Linked DNA regions of Homo sapiens: region 1 is linked to region 2. Evidence: fine-mapped expression QTL. Tissue or cell type: whole blood. Region 2 holds a variant in brackets; the other region holds the start of a gene. All regions are shown on one strand. Distances are from middle to middle.

The links. PIP is the estimated chance that this variant, and not a neighbour inherited with it, causes the effect.
Region 1: it holds the start of KIAA1671, and the variant in region 2 is fine-mapped to the expression of KIAA1671 in whole blood (TOPMed, PIP above 0.99).

The regions. Positions count from the first base shown.
Region 1 is chr22:24,950,262-24,955,405 of GRCh38, reverse strand. It overlaps KIAA1671, which reads right to left and starts at 2,690. Exons shown (of 13, transcript NM_001145206.2): 1 at 2,634-2,690. RefSeq lists a silencer at 2,624-2,873.
Region 2 is chr22:25,067,019-25,072,162 of GRCh38, reverse strand. The region is part of intron 6 of KIAA1671; the gene reads right to left. Among named protein-coding and RNA genes, the nearest start is that of KIAA1671-AS1, 43 kb to the left of the region's middle. RefSeq lists enhancers at 1,990-2,540, 5,085-5,144. The variant C/G (reference allele first, on the strand shown) is at 2,181.

The DNA.
Region 1 (5,144 bases), 120 kb after region 2:
TCCTTATAGCCAAAGGCATCAGCCCCTCCTCCTATGATCATAGTTCTCCCCTTCCAGACAAATGCATATGTTCACAAAGACTTTCAGGGCATAAAGTATCCCCTTAAGGATGTGGCTGCTAGCCTCATCTTTGACACAGTGTCTTGAAATATTTGTTGAAGGAACAAATGATAAATAAATGAATGAATGCACATATAAAATATCCCTGTGAGGCTCTGTTTCTGAGTTGGTCAGAGATGTAGCCTGGTGAGGAGAAATGCTCAGAGCCAGACAACTGGCTCCTTCATTCTCCTGCCAAGGTCAGCCTTCAATAAAAAACAGCCCCGGCCAGGCGCAGTGGCTCATGCCTGTAATCCTAGCACTTTGGGAGGCGGAGGCAGGAGGATCACCTAAGGTTAGGAGTTTGGGATCAGCCTGGCCAACATGGTGAAACCCTATCTCTACTAAAAATACAAAAATTAGCCGGGCAGAGTGGCGGGCATCTGTAATCCCAGCCACTCTGGAGGCTGAGGCCGGAGAATTGCTTGAACCCGGGAGGCAGAGGTCGCAGTGAGCCGAGATCGCGCCATTGCACTCTAGCCTGGGCTGCAGAGCGAGACTCCATCTCAAAAAACAAAATAAAACAAAACAAAACAAAACAAACGAAAAAAAGCAGCCCCTAGGACCTCCAGTGGGGGTAGGGGCAGCTTCCAGCCTCTGAACCTAGGGTGAGAACTGTATCCCCAACATCAAGAATCAGTACTAGACTGCAGGGCAAGCCGACTGCTCCATAGCTGGAAAGTAACTCCAAGAGGACAAATCCTGAGTTGCCCTAGGCCACACCATTTCTACAGTGCTCCTGACATAGGTGCTCAATACACGCTGGTTGATGGAGCCAGCCAGTTCATGTGCCCAGCTGAAATGTATGTCCAGACACTGCATTGAAACTCTGCACTTCTCTTGGGTAATTGCACCCTTGTCAAGCATGCAAATCCTTTAAAAAGGATCCCCCTGCCAGAACCACCAAGATCTGGGCTTGTGTCTGTACAAATTCCTCGGGAACTGTCCCTGGCTGCAACAGGAAGGAAGGAGGCGCCAGAGTCTGGGGGTGCACACGTTTGTCCAGGAACCTTGATGGATTAGCAGAGGGAAAGCCAGACCAAGGGAGAAGCTTTGTCCAAATGTCTTGGTTACTCATTAGCCAAACCTCAGAGCTTCTCTCTGCAAGGGGGGATCAGAGGGGCAATTAACCCATTTGGAAGAAAGGTTAAGCTAAATAGCTCTCTAATCCTGCGGTTTCAAAAGATAGCAAGTAGGGTTTCTGGAATCTTTAGATACTGTAAGGCAAGCACAGGGGATGGGGCACGGGAAAGGAGAGGCCATAGACTGAGGGAGGCACTGATACTTATAGAGCCCCTACCTGTTTCATACCCTTCATTCCGATCCATCCTAGGCCAAGCCCATTTTGCCCAGAGGGTCCCCATCTGGATTCAGATAGGTTAAGTGTTTTGCCCAAGGTCACAAAAAAGGTGCAAAGAAAGTGTTTTTCTTTGTGCAACAGGTACAGTCCTTTCCCTTCCAAAAGATAATGGCTGCTCCTGGCTAGAGAAAGTTCAGTCCCGGCAGGCAGGAAGCCCTAGCCACCTAGGCGTCGCGCGGTGGAGGTCACACGCCTGCTCCGGGACTGGACAAACAGCAGGGTTTTAAGGCGCGGCGTCCCCACTCCCAGGCGAGTTTGTGCCAGCAGGGTGTGAAAAGGTCAGGCTCGGGTGGGGGTCAACGAGCCGCTTCCCATCCCGAGGGCCCCACCCGTGAGCCCGGGTGGGCCGCGCCGCCATCGGGGCGGGGACCACGCGGGCCTGCCTGGTAACAGGGGGACTGAGGCTTAATCCCATCAGGGCGCCTCCGCCCTGGGAAGACGAGCGGAGGGGGGGCGCAGGCCAGGCCGAGAGGACGTGTCCGGAGCCTCCGCGTCCGAGGGGCCCCGCGCGCCGCCCCTCTCACGCCCCCCGAACCACCGCGCTGTCCTCCGGGCTCCCCTCGACCAGGGTTCCGTCTCGCTCGCCGCCCTTGCTTCCCACTTCCACCTCCGGGGCCTCCAACCCGCACAAATGTCCAGACCCTAGCAGCTCCAGGCTGAGTAACCCAGATCTCCAGCGATCCCTCAGCTCCTAGCCACGGGATCTCTCTGAATCCATTCCCAAGGCTCAGGCTGGCATGGGAGGAGATTGATCCTCTCGCTCCCAGTCTCGAATCACCCTTCGCCGTCACCCCTGACTGGGGATCCAGTGGGACCCCAGGCCTCCAGCGCCCGATCCCCTCCAGGGATCGACTCCCAAGTCGCCAACCAGGTGGCACGTGATCCATTGGTTGCCCTGTGCGGGATCTTCCCGCGGGATCCACTCTCAAGTCTCGGGAGACGGATTCCCCGGCTCCCAAACCGGGATCCTCCCTCCCTGCAGACCCGGAGTCTGGGGAAATCCTCCGGCTCCCCGCCTCTTCCCCGGCCAACTTTGCCAACTTTTCTCCCGGGGCCTCGGCCGGGCAGAAACTTGGCGGCCCTCGCCAGCCGCCGTCACCCCCAGCTACCTCGTCGGCCGGGGACAGGAGGCGGCCAGCCGGCCCCCACTGCCCGCAGCCGCTGCGCAACCTACCGTGGAGCCACCGCCAGCCCGCGCCGCGCCGCCACCTGCCCGCAGCCCGCGGCACCTGCCCTGGGAGCCCGCAGCCCCGCGCAGCCTAGCCTGCTGGGGGCGGGGCCTCGAGCGGGGACGCGCCCCCGTCACCATGGGAACTGCCGCCGGCCGCGCCTGCGCGGAGGGGAGCAGAGCAGGCAGGACCCGAGTCCGCAGTGGCGCCTGGGCCTGGGACCTCTCCGGCGGGTCAGAGGTCACGACTCGCTTGGACACCCCTGCCGGAAGCGCTCCCGCCCCTCGAGGCCCGACCCCGCTCTGTCCAATTGGGAACTTTGCTCCGGGTACCCTCCCGCGTTCCCTGGATGTTCCCCAGTCACCAGCCAGGATCCCCCGCCACCGGCACCGACCCGCTGCCCAGCCGGCGACCCCGAGAGCCTAATGCAACCCAGGATTTCAGGAGGCGCTCCATAAATGTGGGCCCACTGACTTGCCTGGGCTGCTGGTGCCGGCCCGGGGGCGGGCAAGGTCTGTGCGCGGTGCTGGCGCCTCCTCGCGCCAAGCAAGGGCACTGCACCTGAGAGTTCGCTGGAGCGCCTACTGTGTGCGCATCCTCCTGCCATTATGTTGTGGGTGTGAGTTGTGGGGTAATGGGTACAGGAACTTGTGGACAAGTTGAGAGAATCGTAGGAAGTCGCCTCTGAAAGAGAAAATACCTGTTCTGTTATCCGTTACTCATTTCATTCAGCAGATCTTTATTAAGCACCTATTGCATGCTGGGTGCTGGAGAACCCAGTGGTGGGCAGCTGGCAAAATCCAGGCTGTTGTGCAGCTTACAGATATTCAAACAAATAATTTCACGAGTATATCAAATTGAATCTGTGACATGTGCTCCTATGGGAAATGTACAGAGCATGAATAACTGGAGGACCTAAAATCAATGTGCCTTTATTATAAGCAAGATAGACCTCAATAAAAAAAGAGAAAGAAAAGGACATCACAGGCTGCGCACGGTGGCTTGTAATCCCAGCATTTTGGGAGGCCGAGGCGGGTGGATCACCTGAGGTCATGAGTTTGAGACCAGCCTGGCCAACGTGGTGAAACCTCGTCACTACTAAAAATTACAAAAATTAGCTGGGCGTGGTGGCGGATGCCTGTGATCCCAGCTACTCGGGAGGCTAAGGCAGGAGAATGGCTTGAACCCGGGAGGTGGAGATTGCAGTGAGCCAAGAGCGCGCCACTGCACTCCAGCCTGGACGACAGAGCAAGACTCCATCTCAAAAAAAAAAAAAAGAAAAAGACATCACATTGTGTGGCTTCAGGAGGATTGGTGGGGAGACTTCTTGCCTCATTTTGCTCTTAAATTGTTGGGTGTGTGTAAGAAACAAGGGTAGCTCCTGTTCTCCACACCGTTTGCACTGCAACCCTTTTGAAGGTCTGATCATCACCATCAGACCCAGGCAGGGTAAACCCTGTTTACCAAACAGCAGCCCGAGAACCCCCAACTGACTTGTGTACAGTGCTGGAACCCAGGAATTGGGGGGCAGAGGTCCCATGAGGTCTCATGTCTCAAGACATTCTCCTTATCATCTGGGTATCTTGAGTACAGTCATCAAAAGGATCAAACCCAGTTGCTTTTACAGACAACTACCACTTCCAGAGAGAAGTCTGTGAGTAGGAGACCAGGAACGGCTGGGTTGAAACTTAAAATCCTTCAAAATCCACGTAAGTCAGGCCTTTACATGACGTGTATGTTATACCAGCAAAGGAAAATCGTTGATTGTCTGCTCTTCTCTCTAGACCTCCTGGAGGAAGGGACTTCTGTCTGTCTTTCACCTCCGATTCCCAGTGCCTAGAACAGGGCTTGGCACACAATAGGTGCTCAAAGAATGTATGCTGAGTGCATGAATGACCAACAGCTGATGACATGCCATCTGCTGCCCCTCCTCCCTAACCTTATGGGAACTTCCTGTCTCTCCTGGGCAAATCTCCATGAACCAGAATGCGTAGGCTGGGGGTTCTGTTCAATGGAATGTTCCATGTTTCTCAGCTCCCCAGCCAATGCAGGCTTCCACCTTGGCATCGCCTCTCCATTCCAGAACATAAGGATGGGAGGGGACAAGATAGTCCTCCTCCTGCCACCCCCCATGGAGACTCAAACCCAGACACGTCCCCAGCCCTGACCATCAACCCTACTCTCTGCCCCAAGAGATGCCCAGCCCAGACCGGGTGTCAGCTCTTCTATCCCTGTCAAGCTTTAAGGGGATTCCAGAGGTGCTGAACTACAACTCCCAGAGTCCTCCTGAACCTGGACCCAGAAGGGGCAGGACTTCCTGGTCAGCCCCCACCTTAGCTGGTTCCCCCTGCATTCCTGTGTCTTCCCGCCTAGGTGAGAGATGCCAGCTCGCACATACCCAGAGGTAGACCCTGACCAAAGAGGTGTCAGGTAGTACAGTTTCCGGAGGCAACACCCCTCCCTCCCCCAACCTCACCACTCCCAGCCCTGGCTTTTCTTTTTCTAAGAATAGAGCA
Region 2 (5,144 bases):
CCATGGGCATGCCATGGGCTCTTGCTCTTTCTGACATCCACCCCAGCCCTTTGCACATGCTGTTCCCTCTGCCTGGCACACACTTCCCTGGACCCCTACCCTAGCATCAACTGCCAGCTCCTAGGCATCCTCCAGCACTCAGCTTCCTTGGGGAGGCTCTCCTGGCCCCTGCACCCCAACGAGACCATATCCCTTGAGGCACTGTGCACCACCCCCATCCTAACACATACATGGTCCTTGTTTCAGTTCCTTGAGCAAAGTCCAAATTCTCACCAGACTAAGTTCCATGCGGTCAGGGGACCATGCCGTCTTGCTCCTATATTCCAAGTATCTGGCGCTAGCTCCAAACTACTGCTGGTAAGTGTGTGCTGAATGAACATGAGATCGTAGCCATTTGTCAATGAGTTCAACACCTATGCCAAGCTCTAAGTTCTGGGGACCGTGGACTGTATCTTAGTCATCTCTGCATCTCCAGCATGGAGCCCAGAGCCCAACACGCAGCCAGGCACATCAAGGTTATCCAGACCTTGCAAACCACACAATTCAAAAATACGATTATTGGAGACTTCTTTTCTTCTTTGTGCCTGTCTGAATTTTCCATATCTTTTTACCATGCACATGCATTATTTTTGTAATTAAAACATCAATCAATCAATCAATCAATGTTGCCTTACATTTATTATATAAGAATGTTCATAGGCCAATGATTGAACAATATGGACTGGGGGGATCTCCTGTTTCCCCACTGCTCTGGGGGGCTCAGGAGGGAGGTGAGACACTCTGGGACTGGCGGCTAAAAGGCAATGTTTCCTAAAGTTGTATTTTTAGGAGCGCTGGAAAATTCTCTGGGCAAGAAGGCATCTGAAGTATTTGCAAACACTCAGCAATGGGAAAGATAATATTTCCTAAGACTTTCCCTTTTGGGTGTGCTGAAACCAGTGGCAAATATTCTGGAAAACTCTGAGACCAGCCCATGACAATTCTTCGGTAAGTCCCTCTATTCCCAGAGCCCTGATGGATGTCACACAACCCAGAATCACCTACACCCACTCCTTATTTCACAGAGGAGGAAACAGAAACCCAGAGAGGAGAAGTAACTTGCCCAGGCACAGAAAACAGACCAGTTGCGAAGTCAAAGTGAGACCTGAAAGCATTTTATACCTCACAAAGCACTTCTGCACAGCTTCCCTGACTTTGGCATTTCATCAGAAAATGTTCTGGTTTTTTTCCTCTGTTATCCAGAGGAGACAGCACAGTGTGAGTGTTAGTGGGGAAGGGGTCCCAACTTCTTCTATCACTGTGTAGGTTCAGGAAAAGGAAAGCAAAATCTATTATTTTCATCCCATAGAAGACAGACATTCTTACACACACAGAGGCAAGAGGGATGTAATTTCAGAATAAAGAATAGTCCTTTAAATCAAATAAATGTTGCTTTCTGAAAAACTCACTGAAGTGGTTCTCGTTCTTCCTGTTTTCTTGAGGACTGGAGGAAAGCCCACATCGGATCCAGGATCTTCATTCCTGTTCAGGAGTCTCAGCTCTTCCTACAAACCTGTGCTACCTCCCAAACCAAGCCCGTTTCCTTTTTCCCCAACATTCTCTCTTCCTTGTAACCTCCACCATTTCTTAAAGAAAACAGAGACATTGCTAACCAGACACAGCCAAAAAGCAAAGTTGACAGGAAGCAGGAGGAGAGGGAAAGGACGTGACCCCGTCCTGGAGCCTGCACTGCCCCCCGCCACTCACCCAGAGGTAGCGCAAGAGCTTCAGCAGGCTGGGGCAGTAGTAATACTCCATTTCCAGCACCCAGAGGTTATGTGGTGAGCACAGTACGGTTTCCAGCTTTCCTCTAGCGGGAGCGGCTCTTCTCACTCCTGTCACGCTGGAGTCAAGTTCAAGGCGGCATAAATCATTCAGAAGCCGGCTCACGGCCAGGGGACCAGCCAGTCGGCTCCACTAATGGCCACGGCTGCCTGGGGAACTGAGAAGCCACCACTCGGTCCTATGAGCCCCGCCCGGGGCATCTCTGGCTTCTCGTCCAGTGGGGCGGGTCCAGGGGTGGATCCTTCTGAACCCAGCTGCCTGGACCCTCACCCTCCCGGGAGCCGTAGGCACGGAGGGTTTTAGGGTTTTCAGTTGTACGGCAAGAAGGCAAGAAGAGAGAAGGTGATGCCCGGGAA[C/G]TGAATGTGTGCACGCGTGTGTGTGTGTGTTTATGCATGAAGGAGTGTGTGTGTACATGCTTTTACGTGGAGTCAAGTATGTGTGCATGTGTGCATACGAGTGTGTTTTGTGCATGTGTGGACTGACTGTGTGCTGTGCGTGTGAGCCCAAATGTATGTGGTTCCTCCTCCCCAAACCACATGAGGAGAAGGAGGCCCTGCCACTCGTTACAGGGAAGGAAATCAACTCAGGATCCCATTGGTTTACCGGGCTCCTTTGATGTCAGTCATGTTCCTTTTAAACTCAGCTAAGCTTCTGATCCCCCCAGAAGGAGGGTGTGGCCATCCCCATTTTACAGAGAGGAAAACCGAGGCCCAGAGAAGTCAAGGGACTTGGCCAAGGTCACGCGGTGAGTTGGTAGCTAAAGCAAGGCTGGAACCCAGGCCTCCCAGCCATGATTCCTGGGCCCGTCCACTCCTGTGGACACCCAGCCCAGCATGGGGAGTGGGGTGCTGGCAAAGGGAGGGATCAGCTCCCTGAGGCACCAGCTGCCAGCTGCACCAGGTGGGGAGTGAGGAGAATGTCAATTTTCAGAGATTAAAATGCAATAAAAGCACACCTCGGGCAAATCCAAGGCAAACTTTCCCAGATGTTTCCTTCAAAAGAGCATGATTTTAGCAAGTCACCTCATCCTCCTGAGCCTCAGTTACCCCTTCTGTAAAATGCGACAAATTATCCCTGTGTTCAGGGCTTTGAGGATTCAACAAGGTAGAATCCTGCCAAACCATCTAGTTTAGTTTTCATGGTCATATCATGAGGGCAGTATCATCACTTCTACTGTCCAGATGAGGAAACCAAAACTCACAGGGTCAAAAGAGGTTCCTGAGGTGAGCAGCAGCTAAACAGTGAGACAGGGATTCAAATACAAGCCAGACGCTCCTGGATCCCCTACTCAACACCTGCTCCTCATAAGCCGAGGCCATAACCCAGAGACTCCGGCAAGTGAGCGCCGGATGCAAGACAGCTGTGCTTCTGAGGCAAGGTCCTTCTCACTGCTGAGAGGGGAAAACTGAGGCGGGGGAGGTGTTCACAGAGGCACCAGGCAGAGGCCCTGGGTTCTGCACCAGGCTCCCGCCCCCAGGCTGGAGCTTGGCACACTGACTGCCCCAGCAACATCCTGGGCCCATCTGTGCTGCATCCTTCAGCCTCACCACTGGACACCAGGCAGAGCATCTAACAGGAAACTCACTTAAATAAGGAGAGGGTGGGCTGGGCACGGTGGCTCACGCCTGTAATCCCAGAACTTTGGGAGGCCAAGGTGGGCAGATCATGAGGTCAGGAGATCGAGACCATCCTGGCTAACACGGTGAAACCCCGTCTCTACTAAAAATATAAAAAATTAGCCGGCCGCGGAGGCGGGCGCCTGTAGTCCCAGCTACTCGGGAGGCTGAGGCAGGAGAATGGCGTGAACCCGGTAGGCGGAGCTTGCAGTGAGCCGAGATCGTGCCACTGCACTCCAGCCTGGGTGACAGAGTGAGGCTCTGTCTCAAAAAAAAAAACAACAAAAAAACAAAAAACAAGGAGAGGGTGCTGGGTGCAGCAGCTGAGAAAACCACGGGGTAGCTTCAAAGCTCTTCAGAGGCAGGCCTGTGGTTTCATTGATTCTCAGCGCCCCACTCCCAGCAGGCACTGGGTCTCAGCTGCTCGCTGCCTGACAAGTCAGGGGTTGGCCCCAGCGATGGCAGAGCCAGGGACTGGCAGCACAGTCAGAAGGCCGGCCCTGCTCCCTGATGGCACAGTCGGAAGGCTGGCCCTGCTCCCTGACGGCACAGTCGGAAGGCCGGCCCTGCTCCCTAACTGCCAGACAGTACAGCTGAAAAGCCAGCCCTGCTCACCAGCTGACAGTACCAGTCAGAGGACAGCCCCAGCTGACAGCATAGCCAGAGCACTGGGTCCTGCTGACCGACAAAAGTGCAGCAAAAGGGCTGGTTCCTCTGCACTGGCGGCACCGCTGGAGGGATGATGCCAGCTGCCTGGCTGTACCCCTGGCGCTGCGTGTCCTGGCTGACTGGCTGATGAGTGTCAAGTCTGGGGTTAGGCCCCGCTAACTGAGGGATTAATAGAAGTGGGGCATGCAGCGCTCGCGGCTGCCCTACTGAATGACTGTTGCCATAAACACAGGGGCCCGCCAGGGCCTTTCTGACACCCCTTGGCTGACAGGGGCCACAGTCAGCATGGAGGCTGCTAAGGGTTGACTGTCTGGTCTCCTATCAGCCCAGGACAGAGAAATGCCCGGAGAGAAAGGGGCTGGAAGGAGGCAGACAGGATGCCAGAGACAGGCGGGATGGAGAGAGGAAGAGAGGATGGCAGGCCAGGCGCAGGGCAGAGGGAGGAAGGTGGGAGGAAGGAGAAGGAAGTTACAGGCAGGAAAGGCATGAGACAGGGAGGGAAGGGCAAGACAGGGAACACAGAGGGTGAAAGGAGAAAAAGAGAAAGACGAGAGACATGGAGGGAGAGGAGAGGGAGATGGGTGGGGTAGGGGTTCTGATGGGAGAGCGACAGGCAGGGCAAGGGATGAACCCCAAAGGAAGTCAGAGAAAGTAAGCCAGACTGATGGCCCGGGAGGCGGGCAGGGACAAAGAGCACCAGGAACAGCCGGGGAGAAAGCTGGAGGTGGCAGTGACAATGGTGACAGGGCAGGGGGCTAAGAATAAAAAGAGACGTTCAAAGGTCCAAGACCCGGCGAGTCCAAGGTGGAGACAGAGCCAATCTAGGACCAGGTGGGGGGTGTGGGGAGGGGAGCACCGCTGGGCAGGTGCCAACAATGGAGACCCCCAAGTCCCCATCTCCCAACCAGAGGTGGTCAGACGCACCAGGGCACACCCCCAGGAGAAGCTGCCCCCAGTGCCCAGTCCTGGTTATCCTGCTCTGGCCGCCCTGACCACCACCCTGACCCGTGGGCCGAGGCAGCCCGGGGAGTGTGG